2 linked regions of the Homo sapiens genome follow. The protein of the gene in region 2 purifies or fractionates together with the protein of the main gene of each other region. This does not show direct contact. Each region holds a gene or a part of one and is shown on either strand. Other genes may lie near its edges. The genes, in order: PPP1R9A and CGN.

Region 1 (7,958 bases), on a different chromosome or scaffold from region 2:
GCCATTTTAGTTTATGTGATCAAGCAACTGAAATTCAAAGAGATTTATCACTGACTGTCCTCACAGCAAAACTGGAAGAGCACTTGATATGTATGCTACTAATGTCTGAGATGACTGATTCTACCTCTACTGCACAAGCATGGATTGGCTTCAGTAAGAATTAGTAGTCTCCACATCTCACTGTGAACCAACAGTGTTGCTAGGGAAACTGATAATTATGTGGCAAAATGGAGGGTGTAGAATAGAAAAAGGGTTCAGATGAAATGTAAGGTTTTGATCCAAATCAGCATGTTAATAGTATAGTGTGTTGATCTTCTGTAGTCATATAATTTAATAAACACCATTAATTATATGTTTGAAAAGATACAGATTTCTAAACTGAAAGAAATGAATAGAAATGAAAAGCTACTAGATACTGCTCATACTTTGAGTATGCCACAGCAGGAATATGTATTTATTATATATAAACTATAATTTTTTAAAAATTAAAATATTCAAAAAGGTAAAAAATTTGGTTTGATTCCTGATGTTTTTCTTTAGATATCAATCTTATAGTGTTCCAGGTATAAAAATTATAATTCCATAAGAGCTCAAATAAATTACTTTTTTGGCTTCAAAGACTAAACCATATAGTTTCAAAACAGGCCTTAAAGTGGTGAAGAAGGAAATACTACTTTTAAAATAATATGCACAGTAATATCAACCCAGAGAAGCTAAATACTCTTCCTGAAGTCACACAGCTCCTCACTTAGTCGTAATGCTAATGCTAAATCCTCCTCTTTCAGCTGCCTAAGAGGCACTATTTATAAATTACATCCTATTTAGGGAAAACCCATTAGAAGGATATAAACCCAGTGAATGGATTCAAATCTCTAGATATCATTTTAATTTTAAATGAAGATTTCTAATCCTTTCCATTTTTAATGGCTAAGAGCTTAGTTCTAAAAGTTCATGATAGGATATAAACACTTGCTTATCAGGAAAACTTCACTGGAGACAGTTTAATATGTGAGAAAGATCACGAAAAAACTAAAAAGCCCATTATAACAGGGTTTTACTGCACGTCAAAGTGTTGCCTCTGAGTTGTCGGTCCTGTCATGACAACCCTGCTGCACCACATTCTTTTATTTTCATTTTCCAGGGACTACTATGTATATATTTAAAAAGATGAAGCCACACATTCCTGTGTATTTATCTTTATAATTATTATGTGTTTTCTAATTTGCAAATATACCACAGATATTAAAACAGTCATTCATGTTCATACACGTGCAATCTAAGAATGTTGTGTGTGTAAGAACATAAGTAATTTATTTATGGTTGGTGTATGAATGAAGATAATCATTTATAATACCAAATGTTTCCAGTGTTTTGGTCTTACTTGGTCTTTGACATGAAAGACCTAAGAAGTATACACAGTACACCATGGTAAAAGCACAAAACTATATGGACTTCGTTAACTACATGAATCTCAAGTGCTGAAAGCAGCAGTCTGCCTTCTGATATTATGAAAAAGATCTTTATTCTAGTGACTTAAACATTCTAAAGCTTGGCTGGGCGCGGTGGCTCATGCCTGTAATCCTAGCACTCTAGGAAGCCAAGGCAGGTGGATCACCTGAGGTCAGGAGTTCGAGACCAGCCTGGCCAACAAGGCAAAAGCCCACCTCTACTAAAAATACAAAAATTAGCCAGACGTGGTAGCACATGCCTATAGTCACAGCTACTGGGGAGGCTGAGGCATGAGAATCGCTTGAACCTGGGAGGCGAAGGTTGTAGTGAGCTGAGATTGCACCACTGTACTCCAGCCTGGATGACAGAGTGAGACTCTCAAAAAAAAAAAAAAAAAAAAAATCTAAACCTTAGTCATTAACACATAAGTAGTGTAGTTCATCCTAGATAGGATGAACTACAATTTGTAAGGCAGTTTATTAAATCTGTCAATTGTATGATGATTTTAAAATAGTATTTGGCTTATCTTTAGTTGTGATTTGTTAATGCTACATATTAAAGTATTTATTTTTGATAAGACGAGAGCTAAAATGATTGACTCCTATTTTGATAAGCCTTTTCTTCTTTCCCATAGTAGGAAGGTATTTCCAACTTTTAAATCTCTGGGTCAGAAAAAGAAAAATAAAAGGCCAAATTACACAGTCATCAAAAATGATTTTTGTGGTTGGGTTAAACAAACCTTGACTTAGGCCATCTTGGCAAGATGTCTGCTTGCCATCCAAGTTCTCCATGGTATCCCCTTTAGAGACTTCACCAAGAGATGTTCTTCTCTCAAAGATGTTGTTATTATTGTTAACTTGAGTCCCATTTTGCTTCAGTAGCCTGAATACCTCAGCTTCCAAATCTCTAATCTAGGAAAAACAAATCCATTTATAAAACTCTAAACTAGCGCTCCCCTCCAAGTACAGCAAAACCATCTTATTATTTAGTGTCTTAGGGAACACAACTTACCCGCACTTGGAGGCCTTGCACTTCCACAAGATGAGCTTTTTCCAAATCTTCTATTTTCTTTCTTTCTGCTTCCTGTCTTTTGATGAAATCAAGCTCTCTTAAGAAGAAAATAATAGTTCTGATTATATCATACACTCAATAAATGAAAGTTCTTATCTGAAACAATAAACTGCATAGTAGGATAAGCAACTGAACAGTTATTTAAATGGACAACATTCAATCAGTTAGAGGAAAAAGTATAGTAATGAAAGAAACTAAAACATCTTTAATGGGTCACAAGGCAAAGAAAAATGATTCGATTCTGCTTACTATAATTTTCTTTCGTAGCTCCTGATTCTAGAACACCCATACATATTTAGATAGGAAAGACTGCACTAATGACCCACATTGGGTAATTTAGTGGAGATAATTACTTGTCAGGTAGAAATAATTCCATTTTTCCAATGTCATAAGCATAGTATAGTAAACTGATGTAACTAGATAAGAGTTCGAAAAAGATAATTGTAAGATTTCTATGAATAACAGTGAAGAGGGGGCTGGGTGGGTCAGAAACATCGAGAGGGGCACTCACTTATAGACCTAAGGATAATATGGGGAGAAGAGAAACAGTTCCATTTTGAAAACCTGGAATAGAATATGCAAATTTAGCAAAATTTACTATAAAATTATTTCATGAAAAAGAGTTTGGCAAATAGTTAAAACAGTGATGTATTGAATTTATAGTCACAGAGAATAATTACTCCCCTTTTAACAAGAAACTTTTGATAGCAAAACTCTTTTAAATATTAAAAACATTCTTCCACATAATAGGAAATAAAAGAAATATGGTTAATCTTACATATATGCTTAGCTTCTGAGGCTTGGCATGGAAGACCAGAAAAGGTACTGGTACTACTTATTTGTTCTAACTAGCCAGAAGTAACTGATGAAAAAAATCTAGTAAAAATCTCCGTGGTCAGTCTCCGTGACATTACACCGAGATCCAAGAGATGGAAGCAAAGGAGCAGTAGCTCAGAAACAGCTGTTGAAAATCAAAAGCAGAATGTGGTAATGGTCTCTCTCCCTGCAGTGAAAGGAGGCCCTCCTGATTCTCTCAACAGCTGAGAAATGCAGAGTGGCAGGGCAGGGGGCCTTGCTAGTCGATATGTGCACTGTCTGTAGTGGGAAATTCTGTAGTTACTGATCTAAGAATAGAGAGGAGCAGCCTGATTCAGGCCCCAGCTGTGGCTTGCGTGCTCCACATCCAATAGTCAGTCATTCTACATGACTTTCCGCTGGGCTTCTTGTTTCTAAATCATAGAGGTGTTTCAAAAAGAATAAAGAAATTCAGATGTTTTAACAGTTATAAACAACGATTAATTATCAAAAATAGCAAAGAGGCCCTGGCAGCCAAAAACTATAAAATATACAAAACATAATCTCATGAAAAAGTGATAGAAGTGACTTCCAAAACTTAATGTGTATTTATGCTGTAACTATGCTCCTGGATAGGAAAGATATCTCTAAGGTCATCTTTTCTGTTCCACTAGATATTACAAAATTATTGGACATAAACCTTCTTTAGACAAACATAACTATTCTTTAGTTATTAGAAGCGGCTTACTTTTGTTGAAAATCCTTGATCAACTTCTTTGCCTTGTTGTATTTCTTTTCCAAGGCCTGATACTGGCTTTGAGTCTCTTTGAGATGCTCATTCACTGTGTGGCATAATGTTTGGGCCTCAATCCAGTAGCTTTCCAACTTCAACATTCTTTCCTTATTCTCTTCTATGTTTTGTTGGAGTTGGGTTTTTTCTAGTTCCCACCTCACTTTCTCATTTTCTGCTGCCTGCAGCTGGAGAAAGCAAACGTCAAGGCAAAGATAATTTGGCCACTTTTGTGGCAAAAATCTCTCATTTTTATAGCATGTTGTAGATCAAGTTCTATTATCATAAACAATCACTGAATCCACTTGAGATGAGAAAAGCAGGTATTATTTTTATAATTCCACAGATGATAAAATGGAAGCCTTGAAAAGTGAAATGATTTGTCCAAGGTCACACATTTGATAAGTGATAAAACATGGATTGGATTCCACCTCACACGATATTTCCATCACACCAGGTGATCTGAAATTCTGTGAGCAGTAAAAGATGTTTCAGAGTTTGATATATCCAACGAATGTCAACATGTTTTGAGAGTTTTTAAAAAATATATAATTATATATAAAAAATTAACTAAAAAGGGAGTGGAGAGGGCCAGGGAGGAGAGAGGAGTTAGAAGCACAGTATGGCTTAATGGTTAAGAGGGGATCTCTGGAGTCATTCAGCATGGATTTGAATCCCAGTTCTGTCATTATTGGCCATTAAACCTTGGACATGTAATTGAAGTTCTCCAAGACTCAATTACATCATCCATACAACAGAATTGTGATATAACACATCAGAATGCTTGAAATAGCTCCTTGGGCATAAGAATCATCTGATAAACATTAACCACTTTCACTCTGCTTTTAACCCTTTTGGTGATCTTATTTCATTCTTTATTTCAAGGAACATGAACATATTCTATAGCTCATTATTTTACATGTAGTGTAATGAATTTCTCAAGCTTTATAAACCTCAATTCCCATAAAAATATAAAAGATAGTGTAAGTAAAAGTATAAATTTTTGCTTGGTTAATTTAATTCCCTCCCACGGAACAGAAAGCCATAACCAGCTTTTTGTTTTTCTGCTTCTAGGGACTCTTAGGAATAGATAGTAAACTAGTCTAATACCCTCATTTCTACAGAAATCCAATACTGATCATTTAGGTGAGGGCTCAAAAGTCATTCCCAATAACTCTCTGGCCTTCAAACTGGTACTTTATCTACTTTATATGCCTTCTTTAAAGTTCAAAAGGATGCAAAGTCATTATAAACTATCAATGTTCAAAATCATATAGCACTTAGCAAAAGTAAACATGTATTTATATACACACACATCTATGTTTTTGCAAATATTTTTAACTAAACACATTTGCAAAACAGTTTACAAAGTTAGAAAGCATCCAAAACAATGTCAAGATTAGGAATTCTATTATCAAAATGAATAATAAAGAATCATAATAAAGTGCTAATCTGTGGATATTACATGCCAATATAATGATGAAAAAATATAAAATGCTAATTTATAGTATTTTCTAAGTTAAATGTCTATAGTCTAATACATAAGCGCCATTAAAACACAATCACAGGGAAAAAGAGATCTTTTTAAAACAACAATTTAAAAAATCTTCAATTCTTTCTATGTCAAGAGACAATGACAATTTAAAACAGGAATAGGTTATTTACTGCATCTTTTATTAAGCAATGTTTTGTATCAAGTTGTTTATTTAGCAACCGCCACTAATTTAAAATTATTATTCACGGAGCTGGACTAACACCGTGAATGATGTATAGTCGTATTTTGACTAAAGAGCTGCAGAGTGAATTAGCTGAGAATAGCATTTAACCAAAATAGCCTTGCTAATTCATCTCCATTTAAAACACACGGAGAAACCAAAACAAGTGTTCAATGTGAACAACAAAAGAGATCATTAGTGGTAGTGGTGGTGGTGATTGGGGGCGGGGGAGGGTAATTATGTTTTAATTTTTAAAAGACCATTGAAACAATAAAGAATATTGCTTTAAAAGTAATTTAAAATATATTTTTAAATCTTTGAAATTGTATATTTGATAAAACTAAACAAAATTGCTAGAATTGTGTCTCATACGAGTGCCTTAAAGTTTGTCAATGAAAATATATAGACTAATAATACATACTCCCTTTTATCAAGACCTTTTCTCCCCCACAAATTTAAATTATGTGAACCAAACAACTAAAAATTTCCAGTAGTACCTGGCACTTAAATTATGCATGTATTAAGTTTATAAGATTTAATTATTAGAAATTAGAAATGGTTTATAAAACATTGATGTGCTATACTAAATTTGTTCCTACAAATGATTAAATCTATTTATAATAAGGTAAGTGAAGAGGAGATATAGTAGCTTTGCTTAAGGAATTAGTAATCAAAACATACTTTGCATACTTGAACCATTAAAAATATTACTTTTTAAGGAAATCTCAGAGGCCACATATGTGCAAATACATAAATATATATATCTAAAATATTGTGTTATTTGCACTGAGGGGGATGTGGGTGTTTGCTCTCACTGGCAGGTTTGTCTACGTACCTGACAGTGAAAATGAATCTATCACATTTGCATTCTTTCAAATATACAGGGACAAAACCTTTAGTCCTAGGATTGGATTTATTCATAGTATCTGAAGTTTAAAAAGTAAAATTCAAACACCATGTTTCGGTGCTTACCTTGGTCTTCAATTTTTGAATCTCTGCTTCTGTAACTGCATGTTTGATTTGCAACTGAAAATTGAAAAGAAAGAAAAAATCTGAACTAAGAAAGTGTATCTATATTTGTAAAGCCTCAGCAGCTACAAGAATGCCTTATTACATAGTAAAAGGCCTAGAAAAGTGCTGCAGTGCAGCAAGTTGTAAATTAAAGTGTCTACTGTGTGAAATGACACTGGGTGCAAACTAATTAAACACAGTTTATGGTCTATACTCCCTAACATCAGATTAGGTTACCAATTTAATTGCTCAGGGACCAAGAGAAGAAAACACTTTTTATTGCCCTCTTTGCAGCTCTTCCTTTATGATTTGAGCGTCAAGGAACTGTTTCCTTGCTAAGTCTAGCTAACTGAACGGCATACACAGGCAAGTGAGCTGATAGTGTGATTTAATTCCAAACCTGGACGTGTGAAGATTTATTCCAAATCTGCAAGAAAGGTGGCGCTATGGTCCTGTGAGTTGCAAGCACATTCTGATCAGCAGCTCCACTGCAAAGGGAGAGAGGAGGAGGACTGCAGTTGCACGGGGAAATCTCTGATACATATTTTTTTCTTTTAATTGCAGGAAAGGTACAGATCCAGATTTCTGTCCTCCAAAAGATCTGCTCCTTTTGAAGACTCAGACCCCCAACAGCTTCTGCCACAGCTTATTAGCAATAAGAGTCACAGTTTACATTTGTTTTGCTTGTCCCTCCCCCCGCTTTGTTTTCTTTGTAAGGGAAGAAGAAGGAACTGAACGAATCATTCGTTTCCTTAGGGGATCAATAAATACTCCCAAATTTAAGAAAAACAACTTATGGGTTCACAATTTCTTGTCTGAAATCCTTGGGGCCAGATGTTTTTGGAAGTCAGCATTCTTCCAACTTCAGAAAAGTAGTTACGATGTATCTTCTACAAATTGCTTATTATCCACAGCAGGGTCTTTGGAGGCACTCTATAGTCAAAAACACATGAATTATTTTTGCCACCAAACATGAATATTCCCACTAAGCGAGGTACATGAAGACTGTAAATAGCATCCTGTTAGGTCAGGTTGTACCACTAAATTAGTTTGACACAAAATTACAAAAAAGACTGGGAGCGTTTTGGATTTAAGACTGTACATGAGGGACCATAAACTTTTACTAT
Region 2 (7,958 bases):
CCACTGGGGGCCAGGCGCCAGTGGCTCATGCCTGCAGTTTGGGAGGCTGAGGCGGGTGGATCACCTGAGGTCAGGAGTTCAAAACCAGCCTGGACAACATGGTGAAACCCTGTCTCTACCAAAAATACAAAAATTAGCCGGGCGTGGTGGTGTGTGCCTGTAATCCCAGCTGCTTGGGAAGCTGAGGCAGGAGAATGGCTTGAACCAGAAGGCAGAGGTTGCAGTGAGCCGAGATTGTGCCACTGCACTCCAGCTTGGGTAGCAGAGTAAGACTCCATCTCAAAAAGAAAAAAAAAACCCATTGGATTGTACACAAAGATGACTTTTATAGCATGTAAAATATAACTCCATAAAAAAAAAAATACCATGAAGGGAGAGTACATGAAGGTATGGCTAGTAAGGCTGGTTGTTTAAAAAAAATACAGTGTGAGGCTGGGTGCGGTGGCTCACGCCTGTAATCCCGGCACTTTGGGAGGCCAAGGAGGGCGGATCACAAGGTCAGGAGATCAAGACCAACCTGGTTAACACGGTGAAACCATGTTTCACGGTGAAACACTGAGTACGTGTATTTTTTTTGTAAAAATACAAAAAAAATTAGCCGGGCGTGGTGGTGGGCGCCTGTAGTCCCAGCAACTCGGGAGGCTGAGGCAGGAGAACGGCGTGAACCCAGGAGGCGGAGCTTGCAGTGAGCCGAGATCACGCCACTGCATTCCACCCTGGGTGACAGAGTGAGACTCCGTCTCAAAAAAAAAAAAAAAAAAAAAAATATATATATATATATAGTGTGGCCATGGGATCTCCAACTGCATGCAAGAGCAACCTGGAGAGACTTTGACAGAACAGGTCAGCACAATCCCTGCAGCTGCCACTTGTCTTTCGTGTGTGTGTGTGTGTGTGTGTGTGTGTGTATAAAACCAAAATGTGTGACACAATAAATGCTGGCACAGCTCTGATTTCTTTTAAAAAGAAAATTAAAATAGGAGTTCTGGTTCTAATTATTAGCTATTAGCTACTTCTGAAATTCAGAAAGTACCATAATTAGGCTAAAGGGTTATATAATATGTAGTGAATCTTCAATGTAATACCATATACTCTGCTATTTTTCTTTTGCTAATTAGTTTTGTTACATTAGTAACCAGGCCATGCCAACACAAGTATTCCAGTCCATGTGATGATATTTCTCAATGTAAATTAATAAACTGAAATTCTAATGGTAAACATTTTTTCATAAATGTAGTTAGAGACCCCTCTGAAAGACAAAGCAGCTTTTGCCATGCTGACCAAATTAGATTTCTGAGCCTGCAAAAATCATCCTGGAGTTTCACAAATCCACCTAAATGCTGCTACCCATGACGTCTCTTGGGAGTCGGCCAGCAGCCTCTGGCTATACCCCAACCTGGGTTCTGAGAGCACTTTCCATTAGAAACCTCTATGCTCAATGAGGAGACTGGTGCTGCTGTGCTGGAAAGAGATCAAGCTGAGCAGGCAGGATGAGGCCTGGAAACCAAGCACACAGGAGATAGCCCCACTAGCAAGAAGGCCCTCATGGAGAGGTAAGGCAGGTGTTCATCACCCCTACCTACCATTCTGCCCCCCAATTCCCAAATACCTTCTTGAGCACCTCAACCTGGCGAGTATCTCCAGCACTAGCTCGGGCCTGCTCTAATTCCCTCTGCAAGACCTCTATCTTCTCTCCAAGCTCCTCTTCCATCTCCTCCTTCTCCATTCGCAGCTGCAGGAGTCTGAGCCAGGCAAGGTGAAATAAAGGGGAAAGGGAACAGAGTAAGGCCACATGCCTGGGGGAGGTTAGCATGACAATAAAAGCCACCTCTCTGGAGGCCAACACGCTGGGCACCAACTCTCAAGAGGAAGGAAGGTGAACGTGGAAAAGAGCAGTTTGAGAAATGGGAGAGTAAGAGCATACCATAGATAGAAAGGAAGTGGGCCAGGCATGGTGGCTCATGCCTGTAATCCCAGCAATTTGGGAGGCCAAGGCAGATGGATCACTTGAGCCCAGGAGTTCAAGACCAGCCTGGGCAACATAATGAAACCCCGTCTCTACAAAAAATACAAAAATTAGCCAAGTGTGGTGGTGCATGCCTATAGTCCCACCTATTCGGGAGGCTGAGGTGGGAGGATGGCTTGAGCCCAGGAGGTGGAGGTTGCAGTGAGCCCAGACTGTGCCACTGCACTCCAGCCTGGGCAACAGAGCAAGACCCTGTCTCAAAAAAAAGAAGAAAGGGACTGGGTGCAGTGGCTCACGCCTGTAATCCCAGCGTTTTGGGGGGCCGAGGTGGGAGGATCACGAAGTCAGGAGTTCAAGACCAGCCTGGCCAATATGGTGAAACCCCGTCTCTACTAAAAATACAAAAAACCCAGGCCTAGTGGCAGGCGCCTATAATCCCAGCTACTCGGGAGGCTGAGGCAGGAGAATCGCTTGAACCCAGGAGGCGGAGGCTGCAGTGAGCCAAGACTGCACCACTGCACTCTAGCCTGGGCAACAGAGTGTGACTCCATCTCAAAAAAAAAAAAAAAGGAGAAAGGGGGCCAGGCGCAGCGGCTCACACCCGTAATCCCAGTGCTTTGGGAGGCAAGGTGGACAGATCACCTGAGGTCAGGAGTTCGAGACTGGCCTGGCCAACATGGTAAAACCTCATCTCTACTAAAAATACAAAAATTAGCTGGGCGTAGTGGCATGCGCCTGTAATCCCAGCTACTTGGGAGGCTGAGGCAGGAGAATCTGTTCAACTCAGGAGGCAGAGGTTGCAGTGAGCCAAGATCGTGCCATGACACTCCAGCCTGGGAAACAAGAGCGAAACTCTGTCCCAAAAAATAAATTAAAATTAAAATTAAAATTAAAAATTAAAAAAAAGAAAGGAAGTGGCATATGAATCATGGGTATTTCTGAGAGGGCCAATGTCCTTACTCCTGCTTGGTGGCTCTAAGATCCTCCTTGTTCTTCTGGAACATACTCTGCCAATGCCCTGTCTCCTCTGAAGTCTCCTCCAGCTCCCTCTGCAGCCCTCGCACAAGGGCTGACATCTTCTGCCTCTCGGCCTCCAGCACTGCATGGTCCTAGAGAAGGGGAGAGTTGGACACCAGAAGGCTCAGAGGGAAGAGGTCACTTCAAATCAAAGTGTGAGTGTGTACAAGGAAAGGCTTAGACCCAGAGGGCACCATGCCAGGTGCACCCCCTGACACTCTTGTGGTACCTGGTACAATGCTAGCAGAGATTCTCTCCTCAAGTCACAGTCCACCCCTCTATCATCTACAGGAAACCTCCCCAGTTATTTCCCCTTGGGACTTTTTATTTTTAGGGGGACAGAGTCTCGCTGTGTTGCCCAGGGTGAAGTGCAATGGCATGATCTCGGCTCACTGCAACCTCCGCTTCCTTGGTTCAAGCGATTCTCCTGCCTTAGCCTCCCAAGTAGCTAGGACTACAAGTACGCATCACTACACCCAGCTAAGTTTTTGTATTTTTGGCAGAGATGGGGTTTCTCCATGTTACCCAGGCTGGTCTCTAACTTCCTGAGCTCAAGCAGTCCACCCGCCTCAGCCTCCCAAAGTGCTGGGATTACATGCATGAGCTACCGCACCCAGTCCCCCTTGGGACTTTTGTCACACAACCTCAAGGTACTTCTGGCCTGTACTCCCTCCCTCTGCCCCTATAGTTTTCCTGCCCAAGGTTTTCAGCAGATCTCACTGTGTCCTTTAGGAGGAGAGGGGGAGTTCCCAGTTGCAACCATGAAAAGTCCAAAAGTCCAAGATCCCAAGGCAGCCTTGTTCTCCAGCAGTGCCCTCCTCTCTCAGACCCTGCTCTTGTCACATGCCTGGGTTGCATCTTGCATGCTCCTGCGGAGCTGCTCTGTGTCTCGCTGGTACTGCTGCCGGACATGTTCCACCTCCTGGTCACGGGAGGCTACCTCCTCTTTCAGGGCCCCCTTCAGGGCTGTCAACTCCCGCTCCCGCAGCCTCAGCTGCTCCTCTACTCGCTGTTTCCCCTCCAAGACCTCTTCCAGAAGTTCCCGGGTCTCTAACAGGTCCTGGAGAAAATAAAGGAAGAAGTACAGGGGTGACCATATTAGAATCCATCTGTTTATCAATTCACTGAGTCAAAAAATATTTATCGTATTAGGCACAGTACCAGGTGCTCTAGTACCAGTACTGGAGCCCAGAATGATAGGTTTCCTTTATCCTAACTCTAGTCCCAACACACCATTGAATCTACCTGAAAGCACACTGAGTACCTGTAATCAGCCACCCACTCCTCATACTTTGGGGAAACCATGGATGAGCAGACTTGAGGATGCTCCAACTGAGAAAAAGCAGAGGCTGGGGCATATGACCCCAGACCCTACCTTCAGTAACACCTCCTTAGCAGGCTCAGGACCCTGGACATGTTTCAGCTTGTTCTGCAGCTCCATCACCTGGGTCTCCAGCCCATGTCGTAAATCTTCACCCTGGTCCAAGAGGCGCTTCATGTTCTGGAGCCTAATAATAGATAACATTATTGCACACTATGTGTCAGGCAGTTCTCTAAACGCATCATATATTTTAATTCATATTTATTAATGCATTTAAACTTCCTTCCTTCAAATCTTGATGAGGCCTCCCCTGATTTTTGCAACCTGCCCCGCTACAACCTGGCCCTCCTGATCTGCCTTACCCTGTTGTATTTACTGCCTTCTCGTGTGTTACAAATTTACTTGCAAAATATGTTTGTTTACTGTCTGTTCCCTCTCAGTAGAAACTAAGCTTCTGGAGAGCGAGCCCTTCATCTATAGGGTTCACTGATGTGTCTTGGGAACCTAGATTAATGCCTGTCACAGCATTCTTGATGAAACATCTGCTGAATGGATGACTGAATCCTTACAATGATCCTGTGAGGTAGGTACTATTATTAAGTCTATTTTATAGCTTAAGAATCTGAGACAGAGGCAAACCCAGGTAGCTTAACTCCAAATCATGCACTACCACCATTATTGATAAAGAAGGTAGAGAGAAAGGCCCTATCCTGTCCTTAAACCAACACTGCCCCTTTCAGCTTCTGGAGATTTCCTTCTGTCTCCTTCAACCCTAGGGGCAAAGAGGGAGTGGCCTCTAAACCTGGCCTAGGCCCCCAAGCAGCCCGAGGTGCGCCACCAGCTGCACTCACTCCTTGTTGCTCTGCTGGGCCTCCCCCTTCCTCCTCTCCAGCAGCTCCTGCAGTCGGCTGCACTCTTCTGTTTTCTCCTCCAGCTGCCGCTCCAGCCCAACTTGGGATGGCTCTAGCTTCTGCCGCTTCTGTAAAAGGGAATGAGAGTACAGCAGGTAGAGGGTAGGGAAAGCCTCTCAGAAAGACTCAGAATAATGGGAATGTCTAACACTCATTGGACACTTGCTGTATGATAGACACTATACTTAGGACCTTATGTGTATTATCCACATCTAATCCTCATAACTAGCCTTGGTACTTGTGATGATGTAAAATATGTTCACAAATTATCTGACATTTCTTTCAAAAGATAAAGCCTAATTCTGTTTGCCTCGAGCACGGGCTTGACTTAGGGGCTTCCTTCTAACAAACAGAAAAAGGAGGACGTGATGAGTAAATTCTGATGTTAGGTCATAAAAAGGCATTGCAGCTTTTCTCTTGGATCCCTCACTCTGGGAAAAAAATAGCTGTTATATTGTGAGGATACTCAAAAGTAGCTCTGTGAGGAAGGCCAAACAGCCAGGAACTGAGGTTTACAACCAACAGCCATTTGATTAAGCTGGGTTTTTATTATTTTTATTGATTTTTTTTTTTTCTTGGTGTTTTGTTTTGAGATGGAGTTTTGCTCTTGCCTAGGCTGGAGTGCAATGGCGAGATCTCAGCTCACCGCAACCTCCACCTCCCGGGTTCAAGCAATTCTCGTGCCTCAGCCTCCTAAGTAGCTGGGATTACAGGCATGCATCACCTCACCTGGCTAATTTTTGTATTATTAGTAGAGACAGGGTTTCTCCATGTTGGTCAGGCTGGTCTCAAACTCCCGACCTCAGGTAATCTGTCCACCTCAGCCTCCCACAGCGCCCGGCCTGGTTTTTTGTTTTTTTTGTTTGTTTGTTTTTTGAGATGGAGTCTCGCTCTGTTGCCCAAGCTGGAGTGCAGTGGCGCAATCTCGGCTCATGGCAACCTCTGCCTCCCAGGTTCAAGCAAGTCTCCCTGCCTCAGCCTCCCAAGCAGCAGGGATTACAGATGCCTGCCACCATGCCCAACTAATTTTTGTATTTTCAGTAGAGACAGGGTTTCACCATGTTGGCCAGGCTGGTCTCAAACTCCTGACCTCAGGTGATCCACCCACCTCAGCCTCCCAAAGGGCTGGGATTATGGGTGTGAGCCATTGCACCCAGCCAATTAAGCTGGTTTTGTCTATCTTATTCATTAAACTGGTTTTGTTTGCTTCATTCACTTATTTATATTTTTTTGAGACAGGGTCTTGCTCTGGCACCCAGGCTGGAGTGCAGCAGTGCAATCACAGCTCACTGCAGTCTTAACCTCCTGGGCTCAAAAAATCCTCCCACTTCAGTCTCCTAAGTAGCTGGAACTACAGGCACATGCCATCACATCTGGCTAATTTTTTGTAGAGGCGGGTTCTCACTATGTTGCCCAGGCTGGTCTCAAACTCCTGGGTTCAAGTGGTCCTCCCACCTTGCCCTCCCAAAGTGCTGGGATTATAGGCGTAAGCCACCATGCCTGGCCCTGAGTAAGCCATTTTAGAAGCAGATCCTCCAATTTACTTCTTTTGGCCACAGCCAGAAGCTGGACTGGAACCTTATAACAGGCTCAGAGCCACAATTACCCTGTTAAGCTGATCCCAGGTTCTTCATCCTCAGACTCTGGGAAATGCTTTTTTTTTGAGAAAGAGTTTCACTCTTGTTGCCCAGGCTGGAGTGCAATGGCAGGATCTCAGCTCACCACAACCTCCACCTCCCGGGTGCAAGTAATTCTCCTGCCTCAGCCTCCCAAGTAGCTGGGATTACAGGCATGTGCCACCATACCAGGCTAATTTTGTATTTTTAGTAGAGACAGGATTTCTCCATGTTGGTCAGGCTGGTCTCAAACTCCCAACCTCAGGTGATCTGCCTGCCTCAGCCTCCCAAAGGATTACAGGTGTGAGCCACTGCGCCCGGCTGGGAAATGTTTGTTTAAAGCTATTGAGTTTTGGGTAATTTGTTACACAGCAATAGTTAATTAATATAGTACTATCATAATCCCCACTTTACAATTTAGGAAACAGAGGCTTAGAACATTTAAAGAACTTGCCCAAGGTCAGTTACACAGCCAACAAGTAACAGAACCAGGATTTGAACCCAGTTAGTTTGGCTCCACAGCCAATCACTTAATCATTACACTACAGTGATTTCCAAAAGACAAGGGAAGTTACAATCCAACATTTATTGAGCACCAACTACACACAAACCAATATGATGAAAGGCAGAAGACATGTTTTTAAAAAGGGTACACTGGCTTTAGAATAAGACTGACCCGGATTTTTTCATTCCTCTCTGCAACTTACTACCATAGGCAATTTACTTAGCCTCTCTGATCTTCAGTTTTCTCATCAGAAAAGGGTCCAGAATAGGTATTCACAGGGTAACTATAATGATTACAGTACCCAGGACAGTACATACTACCAAAATTATACTCAATAAATGATAGCTACTACTATTGCCATTATTATGATAATGATAAAAAAAAATTGAGGCACAGAGAATGTAAGTAATTTTCTTAAGTTTTATATAGCTAGTAAGGGGCAGAGCCAGGATGGGAACTCCCAAAGGGAGTGGAATGGAAGGTAGGTAGATTCCTAATGTGCTCTGCCTCCCTAACCCCCACAGAACCCCAGAAGTCCTTCCTGGAATTAGTACACATTCTTGTCTCTTGTCTCATAAGACACAAACATGCTTGTTCCATTGCTTAGAAGGGTCAGCTCAGC

The links.
Region 1: the proteins of CGN (region 2) and PPP1R9A purify together in Homo sapiens (affinity purification with mass spectrometry; 2 studies listed by BioGRID and IntAct, with this or other methods). This does not show direct contact.

The regions. Positions count from the first base shown.
Region 1 is NC_000007.14:95,246,361-95,254,318, reverse strand, and holds part of PPP1R9A (neurabin-1), read right to left. Parts: intron 7,765-7,958; coding exon of another isoform or gene 7,708-7,764; exon of another isoform or gene 7,337-7,707; intron 7,320-7,336; coding exon of another isoform or gene 7,232-7,319; intron 6,847-7,231; coding exon 6,793-6,846; intron 4,294-6,792; coding exon 4,064-4,293; intron 2,558-4,063; coding exon 2,461-2,557; intron 2,361-2,460; coding exon 2,189-2,360; intron 1-2,188. UniProt on the Homo sapiens protein: Binds to actin filaments (F-actin) and shows cross-linking activity. Binds along the sides of the F-actin. May be involved in neurite formation. Inhibits protein phosphatase 1-alpha activity.
Region 2 is NC_000001.11:151,520,759-151,528,716, reverse strand, and holds part of CGN (cingulin), read right to left. Parts: intron 5,284-7,958; coding exon 5,156-5,283; intron 4,492-5,155; coding exon 4,359-4,491; intron 4,044-4,358; coding exon 3,831-4,043; intron 3,076-3,830; coding exon 2,927-3,075; intron 1,743-2,926; coding exon 1,610-1,742; intron 887-1,609; exon of another isoform or gene 779-886; intron 1-778. UniProt on the Homo sapiens protein: Probably plays a role in the formation and regulation of the tight junction (TJ) paracellular permeability barrier.